Homo sapiens: one gene and its partner. The protein of the gene in region 1 interacts with the protein of each later gene in a biochemical or structural test. Each region holds a gene or a part of one and is shown on either strand. Other genes may lie near its edges. The genes, in order: FOXO4 and NLK.

Region 1 (13,280 bases):
AGCCAAGATCGTGCCACTACACTCCAGCCTGGTAACAGAATGAGACCTGTCTCAAAAAAAAAATATATATATATATAGAGAGAGAGACATAGACATATATATATATGGACATATATATATATATATATGGATATATATATATATATATGCATGTTTTTGTGTATTGAAAACTCTCTGGCAAATATCTCTGGAAAAAAAAATCTTTGGTAAATAACTCTGGTAAATATCATGCCAGTAGGACTGTTTTATTTTTTTTCAGGCTGAAGTGCAGTGATGTGATCTTGGCTCACTGCAACCTCCACCTCCCAGGTTCAAGCAATTCTCGTGTCTCAGCCACCCGCATAGCTGGGACTACAGGCATGCACGATCACGCCTGGCTAATGTTTTCTGTTTTTAGTAGAGACGGGGTTTCACCATGTTGGCCAGGCTGGTCTTGAACTCCTGGCCTCAAGTGATCCACCCACCTCGGCCTCCCGAAGTGTTAGGATTACAGGCATGAGGCATGAGCCACTGTACCCGGCTTTTTTTTTTTTTTTTTTTTTGAGACAAGGTTTTACTCTGTTGCCCAGGCTGGAGTGCAGTGGCACAAACATGGCTCACTGCAGCCTCAACCTCCTGGGCTCAAGCCATTCTGCCACCTCAGCCTCCGAAGTAGCTGGGACCACAGGTGCTCACCATCATGCCCAGCTAATTAAAAAGATTTTTTTTTTAGTAGAAATGGAGGTCTCACCATGTTGCCCAGGCTGAGGACTTTCAAAGGTTGGAACCATAGAGCTCTACAGGAAGAGTTAAAGAGGAAGCTCTAAGGTTCCTCGAAACCTGAGAGATTGACTGGACACGGTGGCTGAAGCCTATAAGCCCAGCACTTTGGGAGGCCAAGGCGGGCAGATCACGAGGTCAGGAGTTCAAGACCAGCCTGGTCAACATGATGAAACCCCGTCTCTACTAAAAATACAAAAATTAGTCGGGCGTGTTGGCACGTGCCTGTAATCCCAGCTACTCAGGAGGCTGAGGCAGGAGAATTGCTTGAACCCGGGAGGCGGAGGTTGCAGTGAGCTGAGATCCCACCACTGAATTTCAGCCTGGGCAACAGAGCGAGACTCCGTCTCAAAAACAAAAACAAACAAACAAATAAAAAACCTGAGGAATGAAGCATTGTGGATGTTATTTATGCAGGAGGCTAGGACCAAATTCATGTGGGTGTGAAGTGTAAGCTCAGGGCGACCTAAAATATAAAGGGCAACCTGGGGTCTCGAACCCAGATTGGAGATCACAGAAAATAGGATTTTAGAGCTAGAAGAGACTTTAGAGATCTTCTCATATATCACTCTCATTTTACAAATGAGTAAACCAAAGCCAGAAGAGTGAAACTGACTTGTTTAGGCTCTGGAGTCAGACTGCCTGCATTTGTGCCTCTACTCTACCACTTAGTAATTCTGGACCTTAAGCATGTCTCCTTATCCTAAGTCTCATTTTCCTCTGTGAAATGAAAACAGTACTACCATTGAGTTTATACATTTGTTGTGAGACTAAATGAGATAATCCACATAAAGCACTTAGCATGGTACCTAACACATAATAAAAACCCAATAAATGTTACTTATCAATATTAGTGTAATTAGTATCAATTTTTCAACTAGTTAGTGACAAAACTATGACAAGGACTCAGATCTCCTGACTCAATCTAGTGTTCTTTTCACTGCACCAGAGTTATGTCTATGGTCCAAAAAAGTGGTGCCAACTCAAGTCTATGTGGGGCTGGGCACGGTGGTGGCTCATGCCCATAATCCCAGCACTTTGGGAGGGGCCAAGGCTAGTGGATCACTTGAGGTCAGGGGTTCGAGACCAGCCTGGCCAACATGGTGAAACCCCATCTCTACTAAAAATACACAGAGTTTGCAGTGAGCCGAGATCGCGCCACTGCACTCCAGCTTGGTGACAGAGAGAGACTCCGCCTCAAAAAAAAAAAAATACAAAAATTAGCTGGGCGTGGCAGCGGGTGCCTGTAATCCCAGCTACTCAGAAGGCTGAGGCAGCAGAATTGCTTGAACCTGGGAGGTGGAGGTTGCAGCGAGCCAAGATCACACCATTGTACTCCAGCCTGAGCGACAGAGGAAGACTCCACCTCAAAAAAAAAAAAAAAAAAAAAAAAAAAAAAAGCTATTTGGGGCTAAAATCTGAGTACTTCACTCTAGGGTGCACTTTACGAGCAAGTACCAACCCTGATGTCTGGAAAATAGTAGACCCTTAAGAAATGTTCATTGGCCAGGTACGGTGGTTCACACCTGTAATCCCAGAACTGGGAGGCTGAGACGGACAGATCACTTGAGCTCAGGAGTTTGAGACTAGCATGGGCAAAATGGTGAAACCCCATCTCTATAAAATATACAAAAATTAGCCAGGAATGGTGGCACACATCTGCAGTCCCAGCTACTCAGGAGGCTGAGGCAGGAGAATCACTTGAACCCGGGAGGCAGAGGTTGCAGTGAGCCAAGATCGCACCAGTGCACTCCAGCCTGGACAACAGACTCTGTCTCAGAAAAAAAAAGTCATTAACTGAAAAGATATTTATTTATTTATTTAAGACAGGGTCTCATCCCAGGCTGGAGTGCAGTGGCACCATGATGGCTCACTGTAGCATCGATCTCCCAGGCTCAAGCAATTCTCCCATGTCAGCCTCCCGAGTAGCTGGGATTACAGGCATGAGCCACCATGCCCAGCTAATTTTTTATTTTTTGTAGTGATGGGGTCTCACTATGTTGCCTAGGTTGTGAAAAGATTTTTTAAAACAATAACAGACAGAGTTGGGAGGGTGGCTTCTAAAACAAGGACCAGGTTGGGCATGGTGGCTCACACCTGTAATCCCAGCACTTTTGGAGGCCAAGGTGGGTGGAGCTCAGTAGTTCCAGACCAGCCTGGGCAAAATGACAAAACCCTTTCTCTACCAAAAAATACAAAAAATTAGCCAGGCGTCGTGGTGCACACCTGTGTTCCCAGCCAGTTGGGAGGCTGAGATGGGAGGATCGATTGAACCTGGGAGGTGGAGGTTGCAGTGAGCCAAGATCGCGCCACTGCACTCCAGCCTGGCAATAGAGTGAGACCCTGTCTAAAAAAAAAAAAAAAAAAAAAAAAAAAGACAAGGACTAGAAATCTTTCACAGAAACACATAAGAAAAGACTTAGGGAAGAGAAAAAGCAAATATATGGACGTTCTATATACGTTTGTGAAGATCAGGGACGAATAGAGGTGGTACCTTCTGAGCGTCCTTGAATTTTTTTCATTGTTATTTGTGTTCATCTTTCCATGTGTTTATTAGCAAAAATCCTATAAAAACGCTACATGTGAATTGTGTGTTTCTTCAGAGCTGGGTAGAGTAAGAAGTGGGGAAATGTCAAACTCAATTCAAATTCATAGAGCCAGTTTGGCAAAAGACCTGTGGTAGGGGCGTGGCACCCAAGTAGAAGAGTGGGCGGTGGCAGTGAAAGTCAAGAGAGCCAAACCCCTATGACCTTGAAGAGGAAAAAAAACAAATTGTGAATGGGGGGACATTTGAGAAAATAAACTCTGGGGTTTCAAACTGGGAGAAAAGCCTGTGTCTTCTAAATCCTGCCATTATCTGTTTGTAGCTTACAGCTACGGTGGTTTCTGGGAGCCTCCTATTAATCTTGTTTCCTGCCCAATGTCTTTTTATTTTCCAAGACCATCTTGCTAATTCTGTCTCTTGACTAATGTTATTTTGCAACATTTTCACAGCTGAACAACCCTGACCTCTCTATCTGCATGCTTTAAAGTCATGATGGTGTTTTTACCATCCCACCAATCCTTTAGCTCGTCCTCCTAAATTATCTGGTCCTATGACGTGTGGTCATTTTTATCTGTCCAGGATTTCAAGGTGTACTCTCAACAGTAAAGGCTCCACAAACATCCGTTGATTGATAGTAGAGTTTATAATCTAGTTGGGGAGACAATATGCCCTCATGAAATGAAAAGCCATGTAAGCAGAAGCACAAAGTTAAAGAATACAAGCCGGGCGCAGTGGCTCACGCCTGTAATCCCAGCACTTTGGGAGGCCGAGGCGGGTGGATCACTGAGGTCAGGAGTTCAAGACCAGCCTGGCCAACATGGTGAAACTCCGTCTCTACTAAAAATACAAAAATCAGCCAGGTGTGGTGGCGCTCGCCTGTAATCCCAGCTACCAGGGAGGCTGAAGCAGGAGAATTGCTTGAACCCAAGAAGTGGAAGGTGCAGTGAGCCGATATCGCACCACTGCACTCCAGCCTGGGCGACAAAGCAAGACTCTGTCTCAAAAAAAAAATAAATAAAAAATAAAAATACAAACTGAGTTCATAGAGGTTCAGGAGATGCAAATTGGAGAAGTGGCCTGTCAGGTTGGACTAGTCAGGAAAAGTTTCCAAGGGCAGGTTAGTTTTGAGCTTTGAATTGTAAATTTAAGGAGGTGATGGACATGAGTTGGTGGAGAGGTGGACCTTTTCAAACAAATGCACAAAGAGAGACAATGCAAGATTTAACTCAGGCCAGGACAGGTGCCTGCCCCACCCTGCCATTTCCCTGTCTCAGTAACTCTGCATGATCTGCCATCATAGCTGTTTCAGTTAGAAGAGATCTCCTTGTGACCTAGTGCCACAAGGCTCTCTCCTCTACCAAATTCACCACTCATGCAGCACTTATCAGGCACCCTTAGCTGGGGTGAAGGAAAAAGGGGCATGTGCAGGGAATGTTTGCAGGCATCGTGAGCAACTATGTCTCATCTCTCTAGTCTGGACCTCAGATGGGAATATATGGCCTTTTGTATACACCTAGGTAACAGGTGGAGGACAAATGCATGTTGGAGCAGAAGAAGGCAGGAATATGGAGAACCAATATGGCTATTTTACCATGATCAGGCTAATATCACTTTGGAGGCCCAATGTGCTGCCACCGCTGAAAAATCCTGGGTTGCATGGATATCCTTCTGCACAGGAGGAAGGCCGCATCATCACAGAACACAATAGAAACACTGCAAGTGGCAGACAAGCCAAATTACAGTCCCTGCCCCTCAGAGGTTGCTGTCTAACAGTTGGAACAGGGCCAGGCAAAAAATGCATAGGACATGTTTATTTAAAAGTTGTTAAATGTCCAAATGCTATTTGTGATACTTCATTTAATAAATGATATTTGCCGAGCACTGTGGCTCACACCTGTAATCCCAACACTTTGGGAGGCCAAGGCGGGTGGATCACCAGAGGCCAGGAGTTCAAGACCAGCCTGACCAACATGGTGAAAACCCATCTCTACTAAAAATACAAATATTAGCTGGGAATGGTGGCAGGCACCTGTAATCCCAGCTACTCGGGAGGCTGAGGCAGGAGAATCGTCTGAACCTGGGAGGTGGAGGTTGCAGTGAGCCGAGATTGTGCCATTGCACTCCAGCCTGGGTGACAGAGCGAGACCCTGTCTAAAAAAAAAATAAATAAGAGCTCACAGTTTACTGGGAGAGACAGATAAGTAAACAAATAATTACAATACAATATAGTTTGTGCTATATAACATAAGACTGCACAAAGTGCTTAGGAATGCAGAAAAAAAAGGAGAACTAATCACACCTAAGGGAGACAGGGAAGGCTGAATAGGAGTTTTCCAAAATAAGAGACGTGGAGAGGAATGACAAGAGGGATGATATCCCAGGATGCAGAGAGAAAGGTATAAAAGGGCATGGTATTTCCAGGAAATAGTGTGAAACTCTGCTTGTAACTTAGTGTGCAGGAAAGGTGTGAAGTGGCCTGAATCTGAGGAGCCTGGCATGCCTTGCGAGGGAATTTGAACTTTATCACACAGGCAATGGGGAAAATCAGAGGAAGATTTAACCAGGGAAATTACATGATCAAAAAAACAAAATTTATAGCCAGGTGCGGTGGCTCATGCCTGTAATCCCAGCACTTTCAGAGGCCAAGGCAGGTGGATCACTTGAAGTCAGGAGTTCCAGACCAGCCTGAGCAACACGGTGAAACCCCGTCTCTACAGAAAATACAAAAATTAGCTGGGCGTGGTGGCACATGCCTGTAGTCCCAGCTACTCCCGAGGCTGAGATGGGAGGATTGCTTGAGTGCAGCAGGTCAAGGCTGCAGTGAGCCAAGATCACACCACTGCATTCCAGTCTGAGTGACAGAGCAAGACCCTGTCTCAAAAAAGAAGGAAAGAAGGAAGGAAGGAAGGAAGGAAGGAAGGAAGGAAGGAAGGAAGGAAGGAAGGAGAAAGAAAGAAAGAAAGAAAGAAAGAAAAAGAAAGAAAGAAAGAAAGAAAGAAAGAAAGAAAGAAAGAAGGAAGGAGAAAGAAAGAAGGAAGGAAGGAAGGAAAGAAAGAAAGAAGGAAGGAAAGAAAGAAAGAAATTATACGATCGCATGTAAGTTATATAATCCCAGTTCTGCCTCGTTGGGCAAGTCAATCTCTGAGCATTGTTAGTGTCTTCATCTATAAAATGCGGATAATAGTGGTACCTACCTCATGGGGTTGAATTGAGGAGTAAATGATTGAGGAGTAAATGAACTAATGTTCGTAAAGCAATTTGCACAGAGACTGGCACATAATAAGGGCTCCATAAATTTTAGCCATAATTACCAGACATGTTTCTTAGAACGGTAACCTTGCTGGCAGCTCTGAATATAAACTGTAGTGAGGTAAAGACTGATGGAAGGAGATCCAATTAAGATGATACTGCACCTTTTTTTTTTTTTGACAGGGTGTTATTCTGTCACCCAGGCTGGAGCACAGTGGCATGATCTTGGCTCACTGCAACCTCCACCTCTTGGGTTCAAGCGACTCTCCCACCTCAGCCTCCCAAGTAGCTGGGACTACAGGTGCGTGCCCCACACCAGGCTAATTTTTCTATTTTTAGCAGAGATGGGTTTCACCATGTTGGCCAGGCTGGTCTCAAACTCCTGACCTCAAGTGATCCGCCTGCCTCGACCTCCCAAAGTGCTGATATTACAGGCGTCAGCCACTGCACCCGGCTGATCCTACAATTTAAATGCAGTTATAAATAGGTCTTGAACTGGGATTTGGATGTAGAAAGTTACGGAGATGAAGAAGTAATGGGTAATTACCTCTAAGCTGCTGCTTGGAGCTTGGGAGACTGGGTAGATCAGGACTACCATAAGTCAAATTCAGAGATAAGGGTAGCCAGAGGATAGGGGTGCGGGTGCAGGAACAGATAATGAGTTTGGACCTGTTGAATGAGAAGTGAAGCCGTTGGAGATGTGAACCTGGAGAATATCGGTGTTGAAGGGAAAGCCAGAAGAGCCAGTGGAGGAAACTGATTGGTAAGTGAGACCTCACTGTCAGTGGGAACTGCATATGGGGGGATGAAGGCGGGTGGAGGGAGGAGGAAGGGGGTGAGGAGGAACACCACCGTGGGCTAACCATTTGTTTATGTTACACAAGCCCCCCACCCAACTCTCCAACGTGCATACATCCTATTTTCTAGTCAGTTCCTTGCTTCTTGCTTCTTGGTCTCCTGCATCTTTAAGAGAATAATTTTTTCCCTTTTGCCGTCTCCTAAATGAAGGAGGGAAAGGGCTAGCACCTCTCAATCTGGTCACCTACACGACTCTGAATCACAAGGGAGACAATGGAAAGGGGGAAAGGGCGAAAAACGATTCTTAAGAAAAGAAAGAGTCCGCGACGACTTCTAATAATTAAAGTTCCACCTCGTTATATCCTGCCACGCCGCTCTCCTGCCGCCGTATCGGGCTCCTGGCCGCGAAGCAGGACGGGAGATGTAGTCCTCAAGAGTGACCAGGGTGGCACGACTGCAGAACTCGGTTTCCCGACTGGCTTTCGAGGCGCGTGCGCAGATGGCTGCCCCGGCGAGTGGTAAACAGAGACGTCAGGAGGGGGCTGCTGCTTGGAGCAAAACAAAAGGGAAACCCGGGGGGCGGGGGGTGGGGGGGGTTGATAGGGGAATCGGTGCGGGAATAAGGGAGGCCGCAGCCGCGGGGACCCGGACCCTAGTAAGAGTGGCGAGAAGGGAAGAGGCGGGGGAAGGGGGAGTCAGGGGAGGGGCAAGTGACGCGGGGGAGCGGGGCGTGGGGGAGGGCAGCAATCCGGGTGGAGGAAATTTGGGAGGAGTGTCCGGGGGGCAGCAACTTAAAAGGGGGAGGGAACTGCGGCTAAGGAGACGTTCGGTGATGGGAGCGCAATATATGAGGGGATACAGTGCCTCAGGTTTAAAAGAGCAGGAAGCTGAGTGAGAGGTTGCAGAAAAAGTGTCTTCGCTCGGCAGAGGTTACAGGTGGCATCTCAGAAAGAGCTTTGAGGCTACAGGCTGTAGTCGGGAAGGGGATCGGAGAACTGTGTGAAGGGACAGCTTAGGGACTAGCGTCCTGGGACTAGGGGGAAGTTCGCGACTTTCTGAAGACTGGCAGGAATGTGCCTCCTGGCCCTCGATGCTTCCCCCCTGAGGGGAGGCATCGTGAGGGACTGTGGCAGGCTTCACTGAACGCTGAGCCGGGGAGGTCCAACTCCACGTATGGATCCGGGGAATGAGAATTCAGCCACAGAGGCTGCCGCGATCATAGACCTAGATCCCGACTTCGAACCCCAGAGCCGTCCCCGCTCCTGCACCTGGCCCCTTCCCCGACCAGAGATCGCTAACCAGCCGTCCGAGCCGCCCGAGGTGGAGCCAGATCTGGGGGAAAAGGTACACACGGAGGGGCGCTCAGAGCCGATCCTGTTGCCCTCTCGGCTCCCAGAGCCGGCCGGGGGCCCCCAGCCCGGAATCCTGGGGGCTGTAACAGGTCCTCGGAAGGGAGGCTCCCGCCGGAATGCCTGGGGAAATCAGTCATATGCAGAACTCATCAGCCAGGCCATTGAAAGCGCCCCGGAGAAGCGACTGACACTTGCCCAGATCTACGAGTGGATGGTCCGTACTGTACCCTACTTCAAGGACAAGGGTGACAGCAACAGCTCAGCAGGATGGAAGGTAATTATGACCCTCTTACCTTCTTCCCAACACCATCTACCCCCTGGACCCCCTAGCCTCCCTTACTTCTACTCTGGGGCCCCTTTTACTACCTCCCACCCCCACCCCCTTTGGGAAGCCCAGAGATCCACCTTCAATCTCCAGTTAGACAAACATTTACTTAGTACATAGTATATGCCACACTCGGTGCTTGATGCTGAAGGATCACAGATGAATAAGACACTGTCCCTGCCCTGGAGAAAATTGAATTCTCTGCTCACTGCTCAATATTCGCAGCACTTTGGCTTGGGCTGCCCCAAACACTTATTCCCACAGAGAAGTCTTTATCCTATGTACAGCAGGAACTGTGTGGATTCCCCACATGAACCTACCCTTCCCTCCTCCCCCACCTCCCACCCCAACACCTTTTCTCCCATTCCTGTGGGATTACTTGGATTCCCTGCTTGCCTCCCAGTACCTCAGTGTAGTGGTACTGTTCTAGCACTGCTCTACCCAGGAGGAGGGAGTGCAGTGGCAAAGGGTAAAAACAATAATATTCATGGGGAAAGGTAGCTGATCTCATGCACTAAGAAGAAAAAGGGCTGTGAGCTGCCACTTGGCTCAGCTTACCCTGTGCTGCCAAGAAACTCTCCCTTGTAAGGGGCTATCCAAGTTTTGGGGGGAAGTCATCCTTTACTGTTAAGGAATATTAGTCATGAAGAAGGAGGTAGGGCTCTGACTTTAGAGCACAAAGTTGGGAGTTCTCTTGGCCTTCTGTGAAGAAACTGTGAGAGAATATCTCAAAGGATACTCTGAAAAACTTGTCCTGAGAAAATATGGGGCTGTAATCACAAAATTGGGGAGCCTCAAGCCCTATTGCTGGCTTGTACCTCTCTAGGTGGTGAGGTCAGCATATAACCAAGTACAGAAGGTTGGATGAGCAGAGGAACTTCCCCTAGGTATAGGAGACTGAGGGATCAGATCTGTGCTATCCCTAGGGGCTGGGCAGAACAGAAGATAGGACAGCTGACTGAGACCCTTGGCACTATTTCTGGGTAGACTGCCACGCCACAGTCTCAGCTCATAAAAAGCTCCCCTCCTTGGACCCAGCCTACACAGCTGTTTTTCTTTTCCCTTAGGTTCATTTTCCAGGGTAGAGGAAATAACAAGTTGTTAGTTATATTGTGGGAGTATAGTCCGTCCTTATAATCTACACTTCTGTGGGGCTTTAGAGTTTACAAAGTAGTTTTTAAAGTTTTTATTTTATTAATCTTTACAGCAATTCTGAGATTCCACATTTTACACATTAGGAAACTAGGTACCAAAAGGTTAGGAAATTCACCTAATAACAGCAGGGTGAGGACTTGAACTCAGGTCTAACTATAAATCATATTCTCTAAAAAGAGCCTGGCTTGCTCTAATTGGAATGAGGGCAAAGTCAAATCAGGCTGAGCCTGGGACTTCAAGGCCCCCCCACCCCTCTCTGAGGGGAAGTCTCATGCCTGAACTGGCCTCCCTGATGATATGCCAAGGTTACTCCCACCCCACCAGGGGGCGGCACTCACTTAGAACAAGAAAGTTTAGATTAGGTGGCTTAGGGAGCAATTAGCAGTCACCCCCACCACCCTGCCCTCCAACATGTAAGAGTTATGGGCTTTTGGGAAACTGACCTCTCCAATTAAGAGTCTGTGTACCACTTGCTAGTTCCAAGGCCTAAAGAAGAGGAGACAAACGGGCCTTGTGGCTATTAAGTAGTAGGGAAAGGAATGGATCTTCTCAAGTAGATCCAGAATTAGAGGATAAAAAGAGGAGAAATCATAGTGCCAGGTCATGGTCATTGTGGTCCTTAGTTACTATGAGGTGAGGCCGGATGGACAAGTGCCACTCCTTGAAGGAACATCAGCACAGTTGAAATGCCATTACCTCAGGGTCCCAGGAACACAAGGAGTTCTTTGGCTAAAGAACCCTGGAACAAGAAGCATCATTCCCCAGGCAAAGGTGCTCCTTATCTTAAGAGCACCAGTCAGAGAAACAAGTAGTTTCTGACCGTCCCATGTACTCAGCCTCCTAGTTGCTCTAAGCACTTCTGGGCTCCTCCTGAATTTCTAAACTAAAGACCTCCAAGTGGGAGGTCAAATGCCCCCAAGGTTGAAGAGTTTATGCACAAATTCCTGAGAAATGGGGGAAAGGCACTGGGAAGGAGGTAGGGAAAAGAAGGCAGGTTTCGGGAAGGGGGGTGGCCAGGGGAGGGCCAAACCCCTTGTGTAACTAGCCTGCCCCGCGGCAATCAGTAAATATAAGCTGCACTGGGGGCTGAAGAAGCTGCCAATCTCAGCTCCCTGGGCCACTGGAAAGCATCGTTTCCCTAGTAGAATGTCACCAGTGAGGGAGGAAGGGAAAACATACAGCTTCCAATACCCAAGGCACTGAAGAGCTGGCAGAGCCTCAAGGGGAGCCTCACCATTGTCAACCCAGGGGCAACCCACCAATCAGGTACAAATATTGATTATGTACTGTGAGCTTGAGTAGGTATAGAATATGTGCTGTGAGCTTGGTGCTCTGGGAGGGCTTTGATGGGGGATGTGGGACTGGAGGACATTACACTTGGCACTTACACTCGATGAGACGAATTACATGAAACCATAAGCCACACAATATAAATTGGGTGAAATTGTGTGGCGCAGATTTTAAAAATACTATACTAGAAATTTGGCTGCCAAAGTCAAGCAGCCGCTTTATAAAAGAGGTGGAACTGAAGCTTGGTCTTGACGGAACTAGTAAAACTTAGAGAGGGGAGATCCCTCCTCGGAAAAGAGGGGAGGGGAAGATTGCACCTCACGCATTTGAGGCACAGCAGGAAGCCTGAACCTGAACTGAATGTAGTTGAGGATGTGTGTTGTGGATTGGAAGAAATAAGGCTGGGATTCAGGGAGGGGGGAAAAAGGAATCTTTAAATTCTATAGAGAGCTGGGTGGCCCAAATGCTCTGTGGGGAATGGAGCACCTGCTGTGCTGAGATTCCAGCCCTTCAGCCTATTCAGAGAACTGGCTCTGGGCAGGGCGGGTCCATCCTGGGCTGGTGCTGTACCACTGTCCCGTAAACTCTACCCAAACCTGCACTCAAGGAAAGGGGTGCAATGCTCTTTCCCACCTGAACCTAGTTCTTGCTGGGCAAGGAGCACGTCTCCCCAGTGCCCACCAGCCCCAGGTACCGCTCCCCCCACCCCCCGCAAAACACACACGAAGCCCTGGGAAGAGCAGAGTACCAGGAGCTTTTCCAGGGTGGGCATCCCCCGTGCTCTCTGCAGTGGATTATTACACGTTATCTCCCACCCGCTGTACAGAGAAGTCTGGAGCAGAGGCTGAGCAGCTTGTCTGGGAGCGGGAAATGTGTGTGGTCTCCCCTCACACCCCACCCCCACCCCTACTTCTACCAGTTTTCCCCCCTGGATTCAACTTTCTTTGAGTCTCCAGGAATACCCCTGCTGTGTTCCAGCACCCTTTTATCTTTTATCTTTTTCTCTTTTTTTGTAAATTATTTAAAGTTTTTCTTAAACTTTAATGACCTGGGAAATGAAGCCCCGAAATGAACCCTGCTGCGGTGGTGGCACCAAATCCTAAACCCTAGATCATCAGGGTCCAGCATCCTCTTAGACTTGACCGCTGGCCACTGACCTCCCCTACAGTACCTCACGCCCCTTTCCTGCCATCTCTGCCCCTCCAGAACTCGATCCGCCACAACCTGTCCCTGCACAGCAAGTTCATCAAGGTTCACAACGAGGCCACCGGCAAAAGCTCTTGGTGGATGCTGAACCCTGAGGGAGGCAAGAGCGGCAAAGCCCCCCGCCGCCGGGCCGCCTCCATGGATAGCAGCAGCAAGCTGCTCCGGGGCCGCAGTAAAGCCCCCAAGAAGAAACCATCTGTGCTGCCAGCTCCACCCGAAGGTGCCACTCCAACGAGCCCTGTCGGCCACTTTGCCAAGTGGTCAGGCAGCCCTTGCTCTCGAAACCGTGAAGAAGCCGATATGTGGACCACCTTCCGTCCACGAAGCAGTTCAAATGCCAGCAGTGTCAGCACCCGGCTGTCCCCCTTGAGGCCAGAGTCTGAGGTGCTGGCGGAGGAAATACCAGCTTCAGTCAGCAGTTATGCAGGGGGTGTCCCTCCCACCCTCAATGAAGGTCTAGAGCTGTTAGATGGGCTCAATCTCACCTCTTCCCATTCCCTGCTATCTCGGAGTGGTCTCTCTGGCTTCTCTTTGCAGCATCCTGGGGTTACCGGCCCCTTACACACCTACAGCAGCTCCCTTTTCAGCCCAGCAGAGGGGC
Region 2 (12,522 bases), on another chromosome or scaffold:
TTTTTGTACTTGTGAAAAATGTGATTTGCTACATTTTATCCAAAAAAGACTCAGCCCATTAGCCGGATATGGTGGTACATGCCCGTAGTTCCCACTTCTCAGGAGGCTGAGATGGGAGCATGGCTTGAGCCAGGAAGGTCGAGGCTTCAGTGAGCTGTGATCATACCACCACACTCCTGCCTAGGTTACAGAGCGAGACCCTGTCTCAAAAAAAAAAAAGAAAAGAAAAAAAGAAAAACGCACACAAAAAGGACTCAACCTTGAGGCTGGGACCTTTAGCAGTACTGAATGAAGACACTGGTCTTCTAAGATTTCACAAATATTTTTAAAGTGGTTCATTACCCTCTTGATTCTGAGCGGTAAAGAATACTACTGACAGTGTGGGCAAGTTCCTGAATTTTGTTCTATCAGTGAAACATCTGTCCTGGGAAAGGCTCCCTGTAGTAATGGAAACTGTTTTGTTGGAGCAGGCTCCGAGTTGCAGGTTAAGAGTATCAATAGCAGCAGTCCAATAGCCACACTGACTAGCAATCTAAGGTTATTAGTATGGTCTTAACTCGAGTGCCTAAGAAGCTTATCTGTATTTAAACCTACATAATTGTTTAAATTATAGACATTATCTCTAGACTTTGCAAACCTTTGGTGACATTTTATTTTACTGTAGCAAAATTACGGTATTTTGAGGTGGGACTAGCTTTTAATAATGTTCATTATGCAGTTATTTAGGGAACAATTTTAAATCCTCTACTGTTTTCTTCCAAGGTTTTTTTTAAATTATTGGTTGAGTAAAAGGAATTAAATATCTGCAATTAAATCTGTTTGTTATTTCAGGTTTGAAATATCTCCATTCAGCTGGCATTTTACATCGAGACATTAAGCCAGGGAATCTCCTTGTGAACAGCAACTGTGTTCTAAAGGTAGCTTTTCAGTTTATTTAAATACCTGGGAAAAATCAGAATGTCAGGGCAGGTTTAAGAACAACATATTTTTGTGAAAGAAAGAAGTTCATTTCCATTACTTTACCAAAAGTTAACCCAGTTTTCTCCATATCACTACTCATAGCCATGGTAATAATTTGTAGTCCTGCCTCATGTTCTTTTCATGATATTTGGCCTATGTTTTAGAAACACTGAAATTGGAATTGTAGTGTAACTAGAAAGAAGAATAGACAAGGTGACTCCTTTACAGCTTGTTCCATTATTAAAAGAAGTGCATATCAGAAGAAATATTAGAACAGCAAGCATCTGTTTATATAAGAGAATGAAGTGTGACTTTTAGGAAGACCATTTACATTTTTACACAGCTAACATATCTATATGCTGTTTGACCAAGGTAGCAAAGTAAGAAGTAGAAACATATTTAAAAGGGATAGTGCTGGCCAGACACGGTGGCTCATGCCTGTAATTCCAGCATTTTGGGAGGCTGAGGCGGGCAGATTGCTTGAGCCCAGGAGTTCAAGACCAGCCTGGGCAATGCAGCAAAACCCCATCTCAATAAAAAATTCAAAAATTAGCTAGGTGTGGTTGCACATGCCTGTAGTTCCAGCTACTCAGAAGGCTGAGATGGGAGGATCACCTGAGCCCAGAGCGTGAAGGCTGCAGTGAGCTGTGATCACACCACTGCACTTCCACCTAGGTGACAGAGTGAGACCCTGTCTCAAAAAAAAAAAAAAAAAAAGTGAAAATGCCAAACCAGAAAAGGGTAATATGCATCTATCCAATGTATTTCCATAATGTATAGTAGCCAATTCTTAATTATTCCTCTGAAGAGGAATTGATTACAGAATTATATTTAGTAGTTCCAAAATTTCAAGTCATCAGTTTCAGTTTTACTTCTCTTCCCTAGTACAGCCATTGTCTTTCATTTAAAAAGGGGCTTGCAAATAGCAAAGTCCACATATTTGTATTTCCCTACCTCTAATACAGATGTGTATTGGCAGAACTCTTGAATAGAGAGAGGTCCACTATATTTTTCCTCATAATAGAAATTGGAAATAAGGGCCTTTAACTGCTATATTTGAAAAGAAAAATAAATTTTTAAAATGTTACCCACTTTAAAAGTAATCAAGACTATCATTATTACTTAGGTTGCTGGCGGTTAAACTAAGTAATAAAACCAAGTGTATAAATAAAATTCATTTTTTATTTTAAATGATTTCTCTGAACTGTAGGTCAGTTCTCTTGAAAAGCTGGTGGATTATACTGCTTATGAATGAAAATTCTCCCTTCATTATAGCCTTGAAGAACCCTCACCCTTATTTTAACTCAAGAAAGATGAAAACCTATTTTTCATATTTTCCCTAAAAATAGCTGATGTTGTAATTCAGTCTTTTGTTTCCACAGAGAAGTTAATTGCCACCAAAATCTACTAAAGTATTCCTTCTATAGGTTATTGAGTTTTTCCTGCCACCTTTTCACTTTTTAAAGAGAACTTGCAACCTATCCCCATAATCGTTTTTTAATTAAAAAAAAAATTTAAACCTTATAGTTAGAAATTTTTTTGTCCTATTCATACCTAATCAATCTTACGACAGTTTAAGCCAATTTCTTCTTATTTTGGTTTTTGATTGGAAGACTTCACACAGGATTTTGTGCAGGACCTGTCATGTTTGATGCCATTAACTGCTTGAAGTTCATTTTCCAAATTGTCCGTTATGGTTTTATAACCTTGGACTGTATGAATGGGCAACTAAAGGAAAATGCCATTTGTGAATACACAACACACAAATCAGAACAAACAAATTTTGCTCCACTCCTTTGACTCATCTTATGGGCCTACTTTTAAAAAGCCAGAATAGAGTCTAGGCTATAGACACTAGTTCTTTCTTCTCAAACATACAAATTCATTGAAGATCATTATAACAAAACATTTTTTAAAAATCAGTATCCTTCCATATCGTGAATGTATTTTGTTTCCTATTAAGCACAAGATGGATAATTTTGCTGGAATTTTTTTAGTTATCTGATCATGTAAGCTTCCTATTTTGGACTCAGGTTGTCTTCCAAATAAGTTGCTAAAAATGACGAAATCATACTGATGTTTTTAATAAGGGATTTGCTTTATAACAGAAGGCCTTTTTTTGTTGGATGGGTGGTTGGTTGGTTTTTCTCATATAAATATGAGAAAAAAATTATGTTCTTTCCTTTTGTTGGTTTGGTTTTTAAAAATATCCTCAAGAGTCATGGCCAAGTAATAGAGTTTTTAAAATATTATATGTTATTTTGGCCGGGCGCAGTGGCTCACGCCTGTAATCCCAGCACTGGGAGGCTGAGGTGGGCAGATCACTTGAGGCCAGGAACTTGAGACCAGCCTGGCCAACATGGCAAAACCCTGTCTCTACTAAAAATACAAAAATTAGCCAGGCGTGGTGGCGCATGCCACTAGTCCCAGCTGCTCAGGAGGCAGAGACACGAGAATCACTTGAACCTGAGAGGCAGACGTTGCAGTGAGCCGACATCATGTCAGTGCACTTCAGTCTGGGTGACAGAGTGAGACTGTCTCAAAAAATATATATATATATATGTTATTTGAACATATTTGATGAACTCGGGCTTTTGTTGTTATGTTATATGGTTTATCTGTATAGTATGGAAAATTTTCCTGCTTTCTTAAGTTGTAAAGATGGTGGCTTCATACTGATTCATTCCCACATACACATCTGAATTCATTTGATGTAACCAGACATAGTAGATTCAAATCAGAAAGAGGGGATTGCCAAAAATTGGGGGATAAATTTTGTTTTCTTTAGAACGGGGTTTTCAGATTTTCTTTTTAAGCTGCCGGAACTCTTTTTCAAATAAAATCTTATTTGGGGACTTCAATTTAGAAAACAGATTTAAAATCATATTTTATCACTTGCAATATTGTGACTTGTAAAGTTAATCAGTGAGAACACTGGAGCTTAGATGGCCATTACTATCTGATCTCATCCTCAGTGCTCCTAGTTGTGTTTTGATTGCCCAATATCAAGAAAATTTTAATTCCTAAAGATAAGTAGTAGTTGCTGGTGGTGGCACGGCTGCTGTTTATTAATAGCTCACCTTGTAACCCTCAGCATACTTTTCAGTTGAGCAGAAATAGCAAGAAAAGATTTATTTCTAAGTTTGTATAGAAGTTAACCTGTCTTTATTATTTATTGCTGTATCTCCAGATTCTAACATACAGTCTGTAATATAACAAGTACTAACTTAAATATTTATGGCATGAAGAAATGAATGAACCCCATAGCATTAGTATTCTACCATATACTGCATTTTAACATATTTATACATTTGAGTATGAATTTGTATTTTAAATAGATAGGTACATGTGAAGTTTGGATATAATATTCATGGAATGCCTAAAGTCAGAAGTAGATTCAACTGGAGTCAGTTTGAAACCCATTGCTTTAAAGAAATTCACATATATTTCATAAAGACGACAGACACAGTCTCAGCTAAGGAGACCTTCAAGATACACCCCTTTATCTTATGATATCTTCCTCTCTAAACTAGTCTTGAAAGTAATTGGTTTTGTGGGGGTTTTTAAATTTTTTTTAAAGATAGGGTCTCAATCTCACTCTGTCTCCCAGGCTGGAGTGCAGTGGCACAGTAATAGCTCACTGTAGCCTCAAACTCCTGGGCTCAAGCAGTCCTCCCACCTCAGCCTCCAGAGTAGCCGGGACTACAGGTGCACACCACCACGCCCAGCTTTTTTTTTTTTTAATTGTTTGTAGAGTTGAGATCTTGTTATGTTGTCCAGCCTGGTCTTAAACTCCTGATCTCTCAAGCAGTCCTCTCAATCCCTGGGATTACGGGCATGAGCCACTGTGCCTGGCCAACAGTTGGTCTCTAAATCAAACCTACAAGTATGCATTTGGCCAGGTGCAGTAGCTCACGCCTGTTATCCCAGCACTTTGGGAGGCCAAGGCAAGCAGATTGCTTGAACCCAGGAGTTCAAGACCAGCCTGGGCAACATGGCAAAACCTCATCCCTACAAAAAAAAAAAAAAACCCACAAAAATTAGCCAGGTGTGGTAGCACATGCCTGTAGTCCCAGCTACTCAGGAGACTGAGGTGGGAGGAGCCTCAGATCGATCACGCCACTGCACTCCAGCCAGGGAGACAGAGTGAGACCCTGTCTAAAAAAATAAATAAAGTCGTTTACGTTCACCTAGTTTTTTTTGCTTCGATTATCAACTGAAAACAGACATGTTTTTATTGATAAAGATGAGAAGAATATTTTTAAGAAAATGATGTAAGTTTGAGACTTTTTTCCTCTCTTAACCAAATAAAACCAGATTGTATATTGACATAAATATACTATACCTATATCATTAAAAATGTTCCAGAGTGGCCGGGCGCAGTGGCTCACACCTGTAATCCCAGCACTTTGGGAGGCCAAGGCAGATGGATCACCTGAGGTCAGGAGTTTGAGACCAGCCTGGCCAATATGGTGAAACCCCTTCTCTACTAAATAATACAAAAAAAAAAAAAAATTAGCCAGGCGTGGTGGTAGGCACCTGTAGTCCCAGCTATTCGGGAGGCTGAGGCAGAAGAATCCCTTGAACCCAGGAAGCAGAGGTTGCAGTGAGCTGAGATTGTGCCACTGCACTCCAGCCTGGGTGACAGAGTGAGACTCCATCTCAAAAAAAAAAAAAAAAGTTTCAAAGTTCAGTGCCCTATCAAAATTTTGATGTTTTGTTTTACTCTTTCATTTGTATTTGCTTGATAATGTTTTGATTGCCTTTTCTGTCTAGATTTGTGATTTTGGATTGGCCAGAGTGGAAGAATTAGATGAATCCCGTCATATGACTCAGGAAGTTGTTACTCAGTATTATCGGGCTCCAGAAATCCTGATGGGCAGCCGTCATTACAGCAATGCTATTGACATCTGGTCTGTGGGATGTATCTTTGCAGAACTACTAGGACGAAGAATATTGTTTCAGGCACAGAGTCCCATTCAGCAGGTATGATTTCAATTTAAGGCTTTAGTTGCAATTCTATTGCAGATTTGAAGGAAAATCCATCTTGCACATGTGTCTTGGGCTTATTCATTATACTGTCTAATTTGCTTTTAGGAAATTCAGGTTCACTTAAAATTCAGAAAGTTATAAAGTTGAAGATTACAAAGAGATTCATTTTGTAACTTATGAGCCTTTAGAGGGAGTATTGAGTTTATTTATGTATTTATTTATTATTATTATTATTTTTTGAGACGGAGTTTTGCTCTTGTTGCCCAGGCTGGAGTGCAATGGTGCCATTTTGGCTCACTGCAACCTCCACCTGCCAGGTTCAAGCGATTCTCCTGCCTCAGCCTCCCAAGTAGCTGGGATTACAGGCACGCTCCACCACACCTGGCTAGTTTTTGTATTTTTAGTAGAGACAGGGTTTTGCTGTATTGGCCAGGCTGGTCTCGAACTCCTGACCTCAGGTGATCCACCTGCCTCAGCCTCCCAAAGTGCTGGGATTACAGGCATGAGCCACTGCACCCGGCCAGTTGACTTTATTATATGCACTGATGCATAGCTGTGAGCTCTGCTATGACAATTTGCACAGGTATAATCTTCAGTTGTTAGAAGGCCTCTCTTCCTTCTAAGTGAATGGCTCTGACTTGAAAATGTATTGGTGACTTAATGTACTTACACTTTGTGCTTAGAATATAAATTTTTAGTGTGTTGATTTCTTGAAATCTGAACATTTAGGAAAATTTCTAACCTTTATTATTGGACTAAAATATCTAAATATGGCAGAGAACATCAGGAGATGATTAAAATATAATTTCCTCAGAGAATCCTTTAGAAGCCATTCATGTTACTTGAATTGTCTTTAAAGCTAATTATTCACTAATACACATATTGACATAATTACTGGGTATTTTGTATTAATTTGCTTGCATGAAAATAATGTAGTAACTATGAGCTCAGGCTGTGAAATCAGATTGGTGGGTTCAAATCCTAGCTGCACCACTTATGTTAAATCTTGGGTAAGTTACTTAACCTCTGTGTTCCTTTTTTTTTGCTGCTTCTTCTTCTTTTTTTTTTTTTTTTTTGGCCCCTAAAACTGTTCTGAGGATTGTTGTACAATGAAGTAGGAAAGCTGAAAACGGGGCCTGGCACATAGTAAGCACTCTGTAAATGTTTGCAATTACGATGGTGGTAGTGTGCCAGGACTCTAGGGATACAGCAGTAAATAAGACAGCATTGTTCTTAACCTTTGTGAAACTTTTACATGAGACAAAAATAAATATGCAAATAAATATGATTCCAAGTAATGGAAGTTCCATAAAGAAAAATGTAGCCAGGTTAGGGACAGACAATGGTGGCAGAGCAGAGCAGGCACTAAAGGATTCTCTGAGGATATAACATTTCACCCACATAAAATAAGGCAGTAAGATGCTGGAGAAATGTTCCAAGAAGAGGGACAACCACCATAACAAAGCCCCTGAGGCAGGAACAAGCATGGCATGTTGGAGGGAAGGTATGTGATGGAAGACGCTGTAGGAAATGAGGTCAGAAAGTGAGAAAGAACCTGGCCATGGTGACATGATAAAGCCTTAAGATTTTATTCTAAGTGTGATAGAAAACTTAAATGAAGGTTTTGACCAAAGGAATACTAAGATTTGATTGATGACATTTTAAAAGATCACACTGACTACTGTGTCTTTGTAAATAATTAATGCACTTGACCAGACAGAATTATTTCTTTTATGCTTTTTCTACAAAGAATTTTTACCTAATATGTTAGAAACTATATCTGCTTTTATCAACATTTAAATTTTTCTATGCTATACGTTTTAACTGTCTTTTTTAAAGTTTACATCTTAAAAATTGATTCTGGTGTTAAAAAAATTATGTACATATAATACTTAATCTAATGTTGGGTACTTTTGACAATATTCACTTTTCAATTTCTTCAGAAAGTAAAGTTTAACAGACTTAACCTGTAAGACTATCATATCTGGACATAAGCTGTCATAAAATGGATGTGACTACTACCTTGCATACAGAAAAGCTTAAGTAAAAAATAATAAGGAAGTATTCAAATCCTATATATGGAACAAGAATCTTGAATTGCTGCTGCAAAAAATATGTGAGGGAAAGTGTGAAGCAACTGGACTGGAGTTCAGATATCCCTTTGCTAGAGAAATACATAGATCTTCAGTTTGGCAGTCTGACATAGCCACTGCAGGAGAATTCATGTCTGTCTAATTGTTGGTGTGTGTTGGGGTGAGAAATGAAGATCTAAAATAGGAAAAGGCTCTAACTTCTAATGGAAGTCATTATTTCCTGTTGTATTTTCTCTGTATCTTTGAGATTTAATTACCCTGGTACTAGCAGACATCATAAAAGTGTTTCTCATGTATGGATCTGACCCATTTTAGACAACTTTCTGAATGTTTCAGTTTGTTTTTATAAGCTAGTCATTTCCTTCTGCCTTTAGTGTGGTTGTTAGAGATCCAAAAGTATCACCTACACACTTTTCCCAAAAAGCTTTGTATAGAGATCTTTATTTCTGTGGAAAGCAAGCTTCTCAAGTATCTCCATTAACCTGTAGGGTGTTGATGCTGATGGCTACCCCATGGTTTAGATAAGTGCAGAAAATAGTGCTTTATATTCGGCAAGCCCAGAACCAGGAAAAGAAGTGTTCTCTAGGTAAGAATTTCCCATCCTGGAAGGATCCAAATGAAATGTTATTGCTAATTAGGTTATGAAGTTAGAACAATTGTGACACTACAGAAAATTGGTAAGATAGTTTGCTACCCAAAGACTTGTTTGCAAGAAGACTGTTTTATTGGTCTCTTTTATTGTGTCCAGCTAGCTAAATGTGGTCTTATGTGGTGTCATATTTTTCTAAGTGTCACAGTTTTCTGCCAGCGTAAGAGATTTCTAGCATGACTAGAATGTAAAGGATGTGTACTGGCCCAAGCATGGAGAGCTTAGCTTTCATTTCAGGTGTGAATATTTTCAGTATTTATTAAATCACAGGTGTCTGATTTGTGGATTAGCACCTTGGTGAGCCTGAATCCATTTGAAGCATCAGAATCCATTCATTAACTGTTTGGAAAGAATAGTCATTAGGCATCAACAGAAGAGGAGTTCAACTTTGCAAAGATCTTAGATGCTATGGTATCAAGAAAACAGGACAGACATGCAGACTCCCAAATTGCTATAGCCTTAGAATGTCATGCTTATCAAAACATATTTTCTATATTTCTATCATATAAATAGGAACTTTTAAATAAATAAGTAGGAACTTTTAAATAATAGGATAAATAGGAACTAAATAATAGAATAAATAGGAATAGGATAAATAGAAATAGGATAAATAGGAATGGAATATATAGGATAATCCTATATATAATAAATAATATGTTAAATAGGAATAGGATAGATAGGAACTTTTAAATAATAAATAGGAATAATAACAGGAATTTATTTAAATTCCTTTACATGAGGAATTTATTTAAATTCCTTTACATGAGGAATTTATTTAAATTCCTTTACATGAGGAATTTATTTAAATTCCTTTACATGAGGAATTTATTTAAATTCCTTTACATGAGGAATTTATTTATTTTAAATTCCTTTACATGAGGAATTTATTTATTTTAAATTCCTTTACATGAGGAATTTATTTATTATAAATTCCTAGAAATCTTTTTTAATAGGCCAGAAAGTGAAAGTAGGGGCTCCTGTCAGTTAATCTAGAGCTTGTCTTAAGGTTTTTTCCCCCAGATTTGGTCCACTTCTCTAAGGCTATGATTTAAGAGTAATGAAAAGTTATTTCCATGAGATTACTATCTATCTGTATTTTATTTCCTTGTAGTTGGATTTGATCACGGATCTGTTGGGCACACCATCACTGGAAGCAATGAGGACAGCTTGTGAAGGCGCTAAGGCACATATACTCAGGGGTCCTCATAAACAGGTGAGAGGAGGGGGGAATCTTTTTCTGGTAACCATCTGTTTGGGCAAGATTTCCCTTCCAATAGAGTAATCTATTAAGGATTTTTAAGCAAATGTATTATCTGTAGGATTTTTTTTTTTAACATCAAGGTCCTAAGTAAGAAAATGTTCAATATTTGTCAAACTGAATAAAATCTCATTCCTAATGCCGTAGGAGAAAGTGCGTGTTTGTGTAGCTCCTTTGCTAATAGATGACCCTTGGCTTTGTGTCTCCTGATTTATTGGTGTCTATGGGAAAAATTACTGGAGATGGAGCTTTGACCTCAATGCCATAACCTACTACATGTATATCAAGATGTCCTTTCCAAATACTGAGCCAAAATACCTCGTATTTCTTATTCCAGCCAGGACTGTGAAGCTGTTGCTATTGCACTCTTGCCACTAACACAGAATCAGATGTGAACGTTGTTAGAAAAGAAGTATGAAGATAGATTGCCAGATTTGCACTCATCAGTATTACTTGCAACTAGCCAAGTCACTGCTGAGAAAGACAAAATGGTTTTTTATCTCCACCTGTTGATTTAGCAACAGTTTTTACAAGCACTTCCTTATCTCCTTTGGACAGAACAGCTTAATGATGTGAAGAGTGAATAAGGGGAATACTTTTCCTAGGAGCAACAAATTAAAACAGAACAGATAAGACTTGAACAGGATGACCCAGCAACAAATTTTCCTGAGTTTTGGTTTCTTTTGAATTGGACGTTTAGATTATCTGATTGATGGTACCAAATGACAGAGTGAATTTGACACTCCTCCTCTCAAACTGTCAGCCAGACATTTGCAAAGGGAAGGTGGCAAAGGGAAGACCTCACCTTCCCTTTGCGGTTCTCTCTTTGTAATTCTAGTGTGACTCCAGAGCTTTTGTTGTCACAGGCATAAAGGGCAATGAGGTAAAGTGTGTTCTCTTCTAAAACCAGCCCAGGCTAGTAAATAGAGATGTATGCTTGTATGTTAAATAGCCCTCTGATGGTTACATGTTTCTGTTGCATTTGGTTTAGAACTGTAAAATAATATGAGGCCCTAACACCTTGAGAAGAGCACAGTAAGTCTTAACCTAGAGGAAAGTTCTATATTATAGAAGGAACTAACAAGATCTATTATGTTCCATTTATTGGCCAGCATCAGGAACATAAAACTAATTTACTAATGCCTCTTGGTAAATGTGTCCTTAGAAGTAGCAAAATAATTGTCCTCTTTCACTGACTTCATTAATTAGTAAATCTTGCCTGGTTCAAGGTAAACAATAATGAAGAGTGAAGAAGATCAGACACCCTTATGCTACCCTTCTGTCTCTAGAGGAGTTTTAACTGTTGTTAATGGTTGCTAGTTAATTAATCATCTGTGTCAAAGAGTTGCTAAACAGCAGCCTGAAGAACAAGGTTTCCTGAGGAGTTTCCTGTCTGCTGTCTAGATAGAACGGCTGGAAAATGTAACCTACTGCACCAAAAGTCACTGTGCACTGCTCTGAGCATTCCTGGCAATTGAGTACTTTTTCTGTGAAAATTTTAAAAATCTGTTAGTTGTAAAAACCTAAGACTTTCCATGAAATAAAAAAAGGGTAAATATATTATTTTGTAAAGCAAAAGAAGAGGAAAGGAAAATCCAAAGTTCCACTATTATTTAACTAGTTAAATAGGTTGAGATGTCTAAACAAATCATTTCTTATATATTTTGCTATTAATTGGCCTCTTAACAGTAATCCCTTTGCTTATCACTGAGTTTAGTGATGACCTTAAGGGAGCACTGTGGTAAAAGTTAGGGGCAGCCCTTTCCAGTCTTGGTGTCGGCATATTTTGATTTTGAAGAGAAGACTGGTGGAGTGAAAACTAGTTAGGAGGCCATTTCCGCTTAATGGCTAGATGCACTTTGCAGAGACTTTAAAGTCTTTAAACGGCTTTTATCCACTGCTTGAAGTGGTCTCCTTAGGCAGATGTTCATGGTCTTTTAGCACTAATCCAGCTAGATGTGTATAAAGTTATACCAACAATACATAATTGAATGTAAATAAACCTAGCATATTGCCTGCTTCCACTTTTCCTCCAGTATGGAAATTCAGTTTTTGATCTATGTTTGCTAGTTGATCTTTATCATCGCTACTCTCATGAGATGTCAACAGGTTCTTGAAGCTCTTTACTTAAGCCACCAATCAGATTCTACCTTTTCACTTCCCACTCCCTGCCCACTCACCAACCACATGATGCATATCCTGTGTGCCTCTTGTTGGCCTATTAGCAGCTGCTTGAAGGTATTGCCATTCATGTTATAGCTATTTACAGCTGAGGTTGGAAGACACCTACACACGATTATATTTGGTATGTAGCCACCTGGATTTTTTTTTTTTTTTTTTACTTTAAAAGATTAATTTGGTCTTTGGAATATACAATATAGCTTATGTTTTGGTACATCATGACTTTTCTGCAAAATGTATAGGGTTTAGCTTAGTGCTCTGCACAGGTTATGTACTCAATTTATAACCTCTGGACTGTAGTGATTAAGAGTGTAGTGTCAGCCGGGCGCGGCGGCTCACACCTGTAATCCCAGCACTTTGGGAGGCGGAGGCAGGCGGATCACGAGGTC

The links.
Region 2: of the proteins of FOXO4 (region 1) and NLK, one has a biochemical effect on the other in vitro, tested with the Homo sapiens proteins (one study listed by BioGRID).

The regions. Positions count from the first base shown.
Region 1 is NC_000023.11:71,088,005-71,101,284, forward strand, and holds the start of FOXO4 (forkhead box protein O4), read left to right. Parts: upstream 1-7,846; 5' UTR 7,847-8,524; coding exon 8,525-8,977; intron 8,978-12,679; coding exon 12,680-13,280. UniProt on the Homo sapiens protein: Transcription factor involved in the regulation of the insulin signaling pathway. Binds to insulin-response elements (IREs) and can activate transcription of IGFBP1.
Region 2 is NC_000017.11:28,162,712-28,175,233, forward strand, and holds part of NLK (serine/threonine-protein kinase NLK), read left to right. Parts: intron 1-831; coding exon 832-917; intron 918-5,736; coding exon 5,737-5,946; intron 5,947-9,805; coding exon 9,806-9,907; intron 9,908-12,522. UniProt on the Homo sapiens protein: Serine/threonine-protein kinase that regulates a number of transcription factors with key roles in cell fate determination. Positive effector of the non-canonical Wnt signaling pathway, acting downstream of WNT5A, MAP3K7/TAK1 and HIPK2.